Linked DNA regions of Homo sapiens. The protein of the gene in region 1 interacts with the protein of each later gene in a pairwise test. Each region holds a gene or a part of one and is shown in the gene's direction. Other genes may lie near its edges.

What was found. Proteins that work in one complex are often made in the same cells at the same time.
Region 2: the proteins of CYTH1 (region 1) and PCNT interact in a two-hybrid assay, tested with the Homo sapiens proteins (one large-scale study listed by BioGRID and IntAct).

What each region holds. Positions count from the first base shown.
Region 1 is NC_000017.11:78,772,035-78,775,811, reverse strand, and holds part of CYTH1 (cytohesin-1), read left to right. Parts: intron 1-3,777. UniProt on the Homo sapiens protein: Promotes guanine-nucleotide exchange on ARF1, ARF5 and ARF6. Promotes the activation of ARF factors through replacement of GDP with GTP.
Region 2 is NC_000021.9:46,424,930-46,428,706, forward strand, and holds part of PCNT (pericentrin), read left to right. Parts: intron 1-901; coding exon 902-1,042; intron 1,043-2,692; coding exon 2,693-2,866; intron 2,867-3,465; coding exon 3,466-3,661; intron 3,662-3,777. UniProt on the Homo sapiens protein: Integral component of the filamentous matrix of the centrosome involved in the initial establishment of organized microtubule arrays in both mitosis and meiosis. Plays a role, together with DISC1, in the microtubule network formation.

The sequences.
Region 1 (3,777 bases):
TATAGCAAATGCATGTCTTATTTTTGTTCCTTTCAAGAAGTTAGCTTCAATTAGGGAAGTTGTCAACAGAGAATTTTAAAATAATTTTTAGGTGAGTTTTCAAATGAAAAGGAAGAGACGTCTGCAAATGTCCTTTACTTATTCAGCTTCTGAAATACCTTACTTTTTATTTGCCTTTGATGTAATTTTTACATTGAGTTCCCAGATTGATTATCTAAAGCAGGAAAGGTAGAACTAATTCATTATCTAAAACAAGAAAGAACAAATTTCAAGTTAAAATAGCAGTGTTTTCAGCAAGAATTAAAAAAACGAGGTTTCACTTTCTCTGTAGAGGAAGAGTGGTGGGGTAAGACATTCAAGAAAGTTGTTCATTCGCATATTTCGAGAAGCATTGAGGTCCAATTGCATAAAAACGTATCTGCTGTCTCTAGCTTTGGCCTTTGAGGGAAGGATATAAGGGAATACTCAGGACAGGGGTAAAAAGAAAAAAGACCCTTAGCACCCGAGGCTTTCAAGATCACTCTTAATTAGTAACTTCCTTCCATCTCTCCTCTTCCCCTAACCCCCAGCGGCCCCCCCAATCTTCATGGGCCACAGGAGACTGTCAGGGTGTTCAGCCTGGTTTCTGTGCCGGGTTAGGTGTGGTGTCATAACACACAGAGGGACCTCAGGAGGACTAACCCTGTGGTCTGTGGATGGTGTGATGCCTCGGGAGCTGGGGTGACTGCAGGGGTGGGTGCCTAGTGGCACAGAGGGAAAGCAGGCAGCAAGTCCAGGGCCGTTATGCCAGCCACAGGTGGTGGGCTGTCTGAGGGAGCAGTGCCTTGCGGCAGTTCTAACCCGATTTCCCATGCCGAATGCCCTGGTGGGTACTTCGGGGGTTTGATAAGAAAAGAGAGTAGTTTCTTCTGTGTTTTCATGGAAAGGAGTTTTCTCACAGGCATAATCTTGAGTGTCTACTCAAGATTTGGGAACATTTCACATGTATGTATTACGGTTTGTGACCAAAGACTCTGGATAAAAGGAGGATTTATATCAGAATTATAGGAAGAGCTGTCATGCTGTACCATGGAGACCTGTGTGTGGGTGGTGAGAAGATTCAACAAGAAAAATAAGGTCTGGGCACTGGCATGTCTGGGTGCTGCTGCGGGCTGGGGAGAGGAGCCTGTTGCATTTAAGAAAGATTTGCCTTTTCATCACCATGTCTCCAGAATAGGCATGGTGCCTGGGGCCCTACAGAGGCAGCTCAGCAACTGTGGAGGGAATAATGGATTGAACCAAGTTCCATCTTGTAAAAAGTTAATATGTGGTGAGTTTGAGTTTTTTTCCTCAACTCTCCATTTCAAACAGAAACCAGAACACTTCTGTGCATGTTTGACCCCATGCAGAACCCGTTTTCTTTGTTTTTCTATGATATGGATGACTTCCATTATTCTCAAACTTAGTTACTAACTTACTGATTTGCCTTTATTGAAAAGAACACAATTATTTACAGTGAACACCTTCTTAGAAAATCTGGAACATAAGGTTGCCATAATTATACACACTTTGTGGTCTTTAAGATATATTCTCAGGGTGACATGAACATGTCAGAGTATAAACATTTTTAGAATTCTTGATGTCTGGTGCCAACTTTTTCCAAAAGGGCTGCACCAATTTACTCTTTTCTTAGCAATGTATCAGTACACGTACCTGTAATAGTGCAAATGTGCCCTCAGTGAGGATCAACATTTTAAAAGTTTTTTTTTAAAACAAACAAGCAAACAAACTGAATTTGGTGGTTACAAAATGGTGACTTATTAAATCTACTGATCACTAGCTGGATTGAAAAAAATTTTTATTTTGCATATTTGTGTATTATGAACTGGCTACATCATAAGAAATGATGGTTTATTTACTTAACTTAGGTTAACTCTTTTCTATCAAATAAAGTGATTTACAGGTTTTTGTCACTGTTTTAAGCATGGGGAAAATGTGTATCAGTTTTGACTGGGGTTTAGGTTAGATTTTGGCTAATTGTAACAGTCGTTTACCTTTCTTTTAATTTTTCTTTTAAAGATGAAAGATCTCTCAACCCATATATTGTCTTCTGGCCAACTACAAAATGTTTCCTTACGAGAAGAAATTGTGAATTAAATAGATTTTTAGAAAATTTAATTTAATTTAATTTTTTTTTTTTTTTTGAGATGGAGTCTTGCTCTGTCGCCCAGGCTGCAGTGCAGTGGCACAATCTCGGCTCACTGCAACATCTGCCTCCCGGGTTCAAGCAATTCTTGTGCCTCAGCCTCCTGAGTAGCGGAATTACAGGCGCACGCCACCATGCCCTGCTGATTTTTGTATTTTTAGTAGAGATGGGGTTTCACCATGTTGGTAAGGCTGGCCTCAAACTCCTGACCTCAGGTGATCCGTCCGCCTCGGCCTCCCAAAGTGCTGGGATTACAGGCGTGAGCCACCGCTCCTGGCCAGTAGATTTTTTTTTTGAAACTATAATTTTTCTTTTAATTAAATAGAGCAGGGTCTCACTGTGTTACCCAGGCTGGTCTTGAACTCCTGGCCTCAAGTGATTCTCCTGCCTTGGCTTCCTAAAGTACTAGGATTACAGGCATGAGCCACCACACCTTCCTGTGAATTAAACAGATTGTATTGGTCTGGGTTATAATGATAAACTGTTCAGTTTCAGGCTGGGCATGGTGGCTCATGCTTGTAATCCCAGCACTTTGGGAGGTCGAGGTGGGCAGATCGCTTAAGCTCAGGAGTACAAGAGCAGCTTGGGCAACATGGTGAAAACCCATCTCTACTAAAATACAAAAAAAAATTAGCCGGGTGTGGTGGTGCCTGCCTGTGATCCCAGCTACTCAAGAGGCTGAGTCACTAGAATCGCTTGAACCTGGGAGGCGGAGGTTGCAGTGAGCTGAGATCGTGCCACTGTACTCCTGCCTGGGCAACAGAGTGAGACCATGTCTCAAAAACAAAACAGGCCAGGTGTGGTGGCTCACGCCTGTAATCCCAACACTTTGGGAGGCCAAGGTGGCCGGATCATGAGGTCAAGAGATCGAGACCATCCTGGCCAACATTGTGAAACTCTGTCTCTAATAAAAATAAAAAAATCAGCTGGGTGTGGTGGTGCACGCCTGTAGTCTCAGCTATTCAGGAGGCTAAGGCAGGAGAATTGCTTGAACCTGGGAGGCGGAGGTTGCAGTGAGCCGAGATCGCGCCACTGCACTCCAGCCTGGCGACAGAGTGAGACTCCATCTCAAAAAACAAAAACAAAAACGAAACAAAACAAAACACTTCAGTTTCTGGAATCTTATGGCTCATACCTGCTCCTTTCTAAATGTTCCATGTGTTAATCAAAAGAGATTATGTCAAACAGATTTTTTCTTCAGTATTTCTTGCATTCACGATCAGTTAGGACACTTATTCTATAGTAAGAATTAGAAGATTGCCTTCTTATTTCAAGTATGGGGGGCACACATCATAGGTCATTTGGAACAGGAGAGATGAAAGGGATGAAACATCTCTGTGTATTGTGCTGGACCGGTGGAAGACTTCAACTTGAGAGCCGTGTCGAGTCTGGTCGAGTCTGCTTTCCTGTTATTGTTCCACACCTTTCCTGCTCTCCTCTCCAAGATGAAAGTCTTCAGAGTGGGCTTCTAAAGAAAAGAACTTTGCCTGAACCTGTCCATTTGCTCCGTTGCCACACTACTTGATTGTCTCTAATTATTGTTGCAATTTAGTTTCAGTTGCAATCATAGAGGCATGGAGGAGGTGGAAAAT
Region 2 (3,777 bases), on another chromosome or scaffold:
TGACCTTTTTTGGCATATCGTTAAAATTACAGGAAAGCCTATTTTCAGTCAGTCACACCCGTCGTAGGCTTCATCATTGCCTCATTTTGCATTTCCCTCTTTTTGGACTTTATTAGATTATTTTTCTCTTCAGGTTTTTATGCAGACGTGTCCTGTGCTTGGGTGTGTGCTCATGTGGTGGTGACCGCGCTGAGCCTCTGGGCTCTGGGCTCTAGGCTGGTCGTGACACCAGCTTCTCCATAGGGCCGTCTGCTTACCCCTCAGCCTCTCTGGCGAGACAGTCAAGTGTGTGTCCGGACACCAGCTGCTGCGTAATCGGTGGGATAAAGCAGCCGCCTCGTGTTCACAGACCTGTGGGCAGGGCCTGCTGGGGATGGTTTTCTCTGCTCCCCGTGCCCAGCACAGGCAGCTTCACCCCACGCTGGTGGTCGGCACTGGCCTCAGCCGGACCACGCACAGAGGCCTCCTGGGTGGCCATCGTGTGGCCTTCTCGTAGCGTCCCAGGTGGGCAGGGAGTGTGTGATATGTTTGTGATCTCGCTGTGGACATTGGCCTAAAGCCCTGCCCTGAGCTTTGTCCAGGCTTAGGCGGGGGACGGTGTCCCCCTCAGGGAGCAGGTGGAGTGGAGGAAGTGGCGGGGCCATCTTTGGAGTGGCTTATAGAGAAATTCACTCCAAGCCTGGCTTCCGTGTTGTCTCTCTGAAGGTCGGGAGAGGTGGGCTTGAAAACCTTGTAGCTTGAGAAGTGGGTGCCGCCTGTACGAAGCCGAGGCGGTGCCCTCCCTCTCCACAGCTGCCCGCCCTTCACAGAGTCCTGGCGGCAGCTCGGGGCCGCAGGTGGTGTAGAGCGTGGCTGTGTGGGGTGGCAGGCAACTCCCTTCTGACGCGCTTTCCCGCCACAGGCTTTACTGCAGATGGTGCGTGACGAGAGCCACCAGATCCTGGCGCTGTCAGAAGGCCTTGCACCCCCAAGCGGCGAGCCACACCCACCCCGGAAGGAAGACGAGATACAGGACATCTCGCTCCATGGGGGAAAGACGCAGGTTTATTTTGCCCTTCACACACTTCTTTTCCAAAGGATTTAAGGAGCTTGTGGTAATGGCCGCGTCCTTAGGGCCACGTGGACACTAGGATTTCTTTCTTTTTTTTTTTTTTTTTTTTTTTTTTTGAGACTCGGCTCACTGCAACCTCCACCACCCCGGGTCAAGCAGTTCTCTGCCTCAGCCTCCCGAGTAGCTGGGATTACAGGTGCATGCCACCATGCCCAGCTAATTTTTGTATTTTTAGTAGAGACGGGCTTTCACCATCTTAGCTAGGCTGGTCTTGAACTCCAGACCTTGTGATCCACCCGCCTCAGCCTCCCAAAGTGCTGGGATTACAGGCATGAGCCACCGTGCCTGGCCTAGGATTTTTTTTAGCACGGCCAAAAAGACTGAGGTCCAAGAACCCTGGGGAGGCCTTCCCATCTCCCACAGCCAGCGCAGGCTCTCGGGGCAGGTTCCCTGCGGGACGTGGAGGTGTGTGGGGGGCAGAAGGGCTCAGGGCTTTCAGGCCTGTGCCCTGTGTGAGCCTGCGGGGAGGCTGAGAGTGGTCCCTCCTGGCCATGTGGCCCTGCGGACTCGGCCCATTCCAGCACTTGTCCCCCAGGGCCTCTCCTCCTGCCACTCGGGTGACTTGCCCTCCGGCCTCATTCCTCCCCTTGGGTCTCTCCTACCTCCCCCTCCACACCCCAAGCCCCAGCAACTGGACCTCAGGGCCTCACCTCTGTGCTGTCGACCCCGCACCCCACTTTTCCCCAAGTCCTCCCCATCTCCCTGCCTGTCTGCTTCCATCACCAGGGCTTGTGGAGGTTGTGGAGTGGGTGCCAACTCCCATCACGCTCCCTCCCATCTCCGTGCCCACCCTGTCCTGCCCCTGTGCCTGCCTCTGACTGGGATCAAAGCTTTGTGAGGGAGGGAAGGGCTTTCTCCCTGTGCCTGGAACGCACAGGGTGTGCTGGTGCCATGGAGAGCCGGTGGGAGGGTCAGCCCCACCCGCCTCCGCTCGCCCCTCCAGCAGGCCCTGGTTGTGTGCGAGCGGCAGCCTGGCTGGCATTCAGGAGGCTCATTGGTGCTGCACGCTGCCCCTGGGGACCAGCGGGTAGCCCCTTGCAGCCTTAGGTCCCCTCCAGGCCCTGGGCCTTGAAGGCACAGCAGCAGGAAAAGAGGGAAGGAGCTTTGCTGACATTTTCCTGACCTTACTTTATCGTCTTTTTCAGTCTCTTCTGTGCTCATGATGGCAGCCTTTGCTTCTCGTGCCTTGAATGGCCCTGGGCAGTGTGTGTCTTCTCTTCTGTCAGGGTCATTTCTGTTTGAACGGCTGTCAGTCTGCTCAGCTGCCGTAACAGAACACCCCAGACCAGGGGGCTTAAACAGCAGACATTGATTTCACCTGTTGTGGCATCAGGGTGCCCACAGGGTTGGATTCTGGTGTAGGCGCCCTTCCTGGTTTGCGGACAGCGTCTCCGTGCTGTGTCCTCATATGATGGAGACAGCGAGTGAGCTCTGGTGTCTCTTCCTCTTCTTAAGAGGCCTCATTTACCCTGAATCACCTCCCGCAGGCCCCATCTCCAAACGCAGTCACACTGCGAACTTTAGGGCACAAGGATGCAGGTGCATTTGTGAGGACGCCACGTTTCTTCCTTCTTCCTTTAGGAAGTGCCCACCGCGTGCCCCGATTGGAGAGGGGACCTTCTGCAGGTTGTGCAAGAGGCCTTTGAAAAAGAGCAGGAGATGCAGGGGGTTGAGCTGCAGCCCCGACTCAGTGGCTCAGATCTGGGGGGTCACAGCTCCCTGCTCGAAAGGCTGGAGAAGATCATCCGTGAGCAGGTGAGTGTCAGCTCTGCCACCAGGCCTCAGTTTGCCCCAGGGGTCCAGCCCTGGCAGAGAGGGTGACACAGACTGTTTTGTGTGTGAATTTCGGTTTGTGTGTTTCTCTCGACCGCTGGAATGTGGCTGTCACTTACCCAGGTGTTGACGCTCAGTCCATGCAGGATGCTGCACTTTTCCACCTGCAGCTGTAACAGGACAGGTGTGCTCGAGATGCACCCTCAGGCCTCACTCTTTTCTGAGATAGGTGGCTAAAGAAACGTTCTCCATTCCAAGTAGCCCCTCCTAGGTTGAGAGGTGCTCTGTGTGCAGGGCTGGGTGGCGTTGGTGCCGTGGGGACACTGGAAATCCTGTTCCTGCCAGCATACACGAGGAAACCTAGTGTTGAGAGTAACTGGCTTGCAGGCCTCACGCAGGGTAGTGCAGCCCAGCCCTGACGCCTGCAGGCCCCAGAGCTGAGGCCCAGCAGATACTGTGCACCCATCCCAGACTCAGCAGGCTTGTCCCGGCGGAGCTGGTTTTGAGGGCGGGCAGCAGGGAAGGCCGGGGCATGGGGTGGCTGCCCAATGCTCAGGCTGCTTGTCCCATTGTGCCCCCAGGGAGACCTGCAGGAAAAGTCCCTGGAGCATCTTCGCTTGCCGGACCGGAGCAGCCTGCTGTCCGAGATCCAGGCGCTGCGTGCCCAGCTGCGCATGACGCACCTGCAGAACCAGGAGAAGCTGCAGCACTTGCGCACGGCGCTGACAAGCGCAGAGGCGCGCGGGAGCCAGCAGGAGCACCAGCTGCGCAGGCAGGGTGGGTGTCACTGTCTACACTGCCTGGGGCCCGGCCTCTGCACCTGCCCGCCCGACACTCACCTGTGTGGCCTTGGGAGCAGAGGGTGGTGACAGGGCATCATCTAGTCAAGCCCC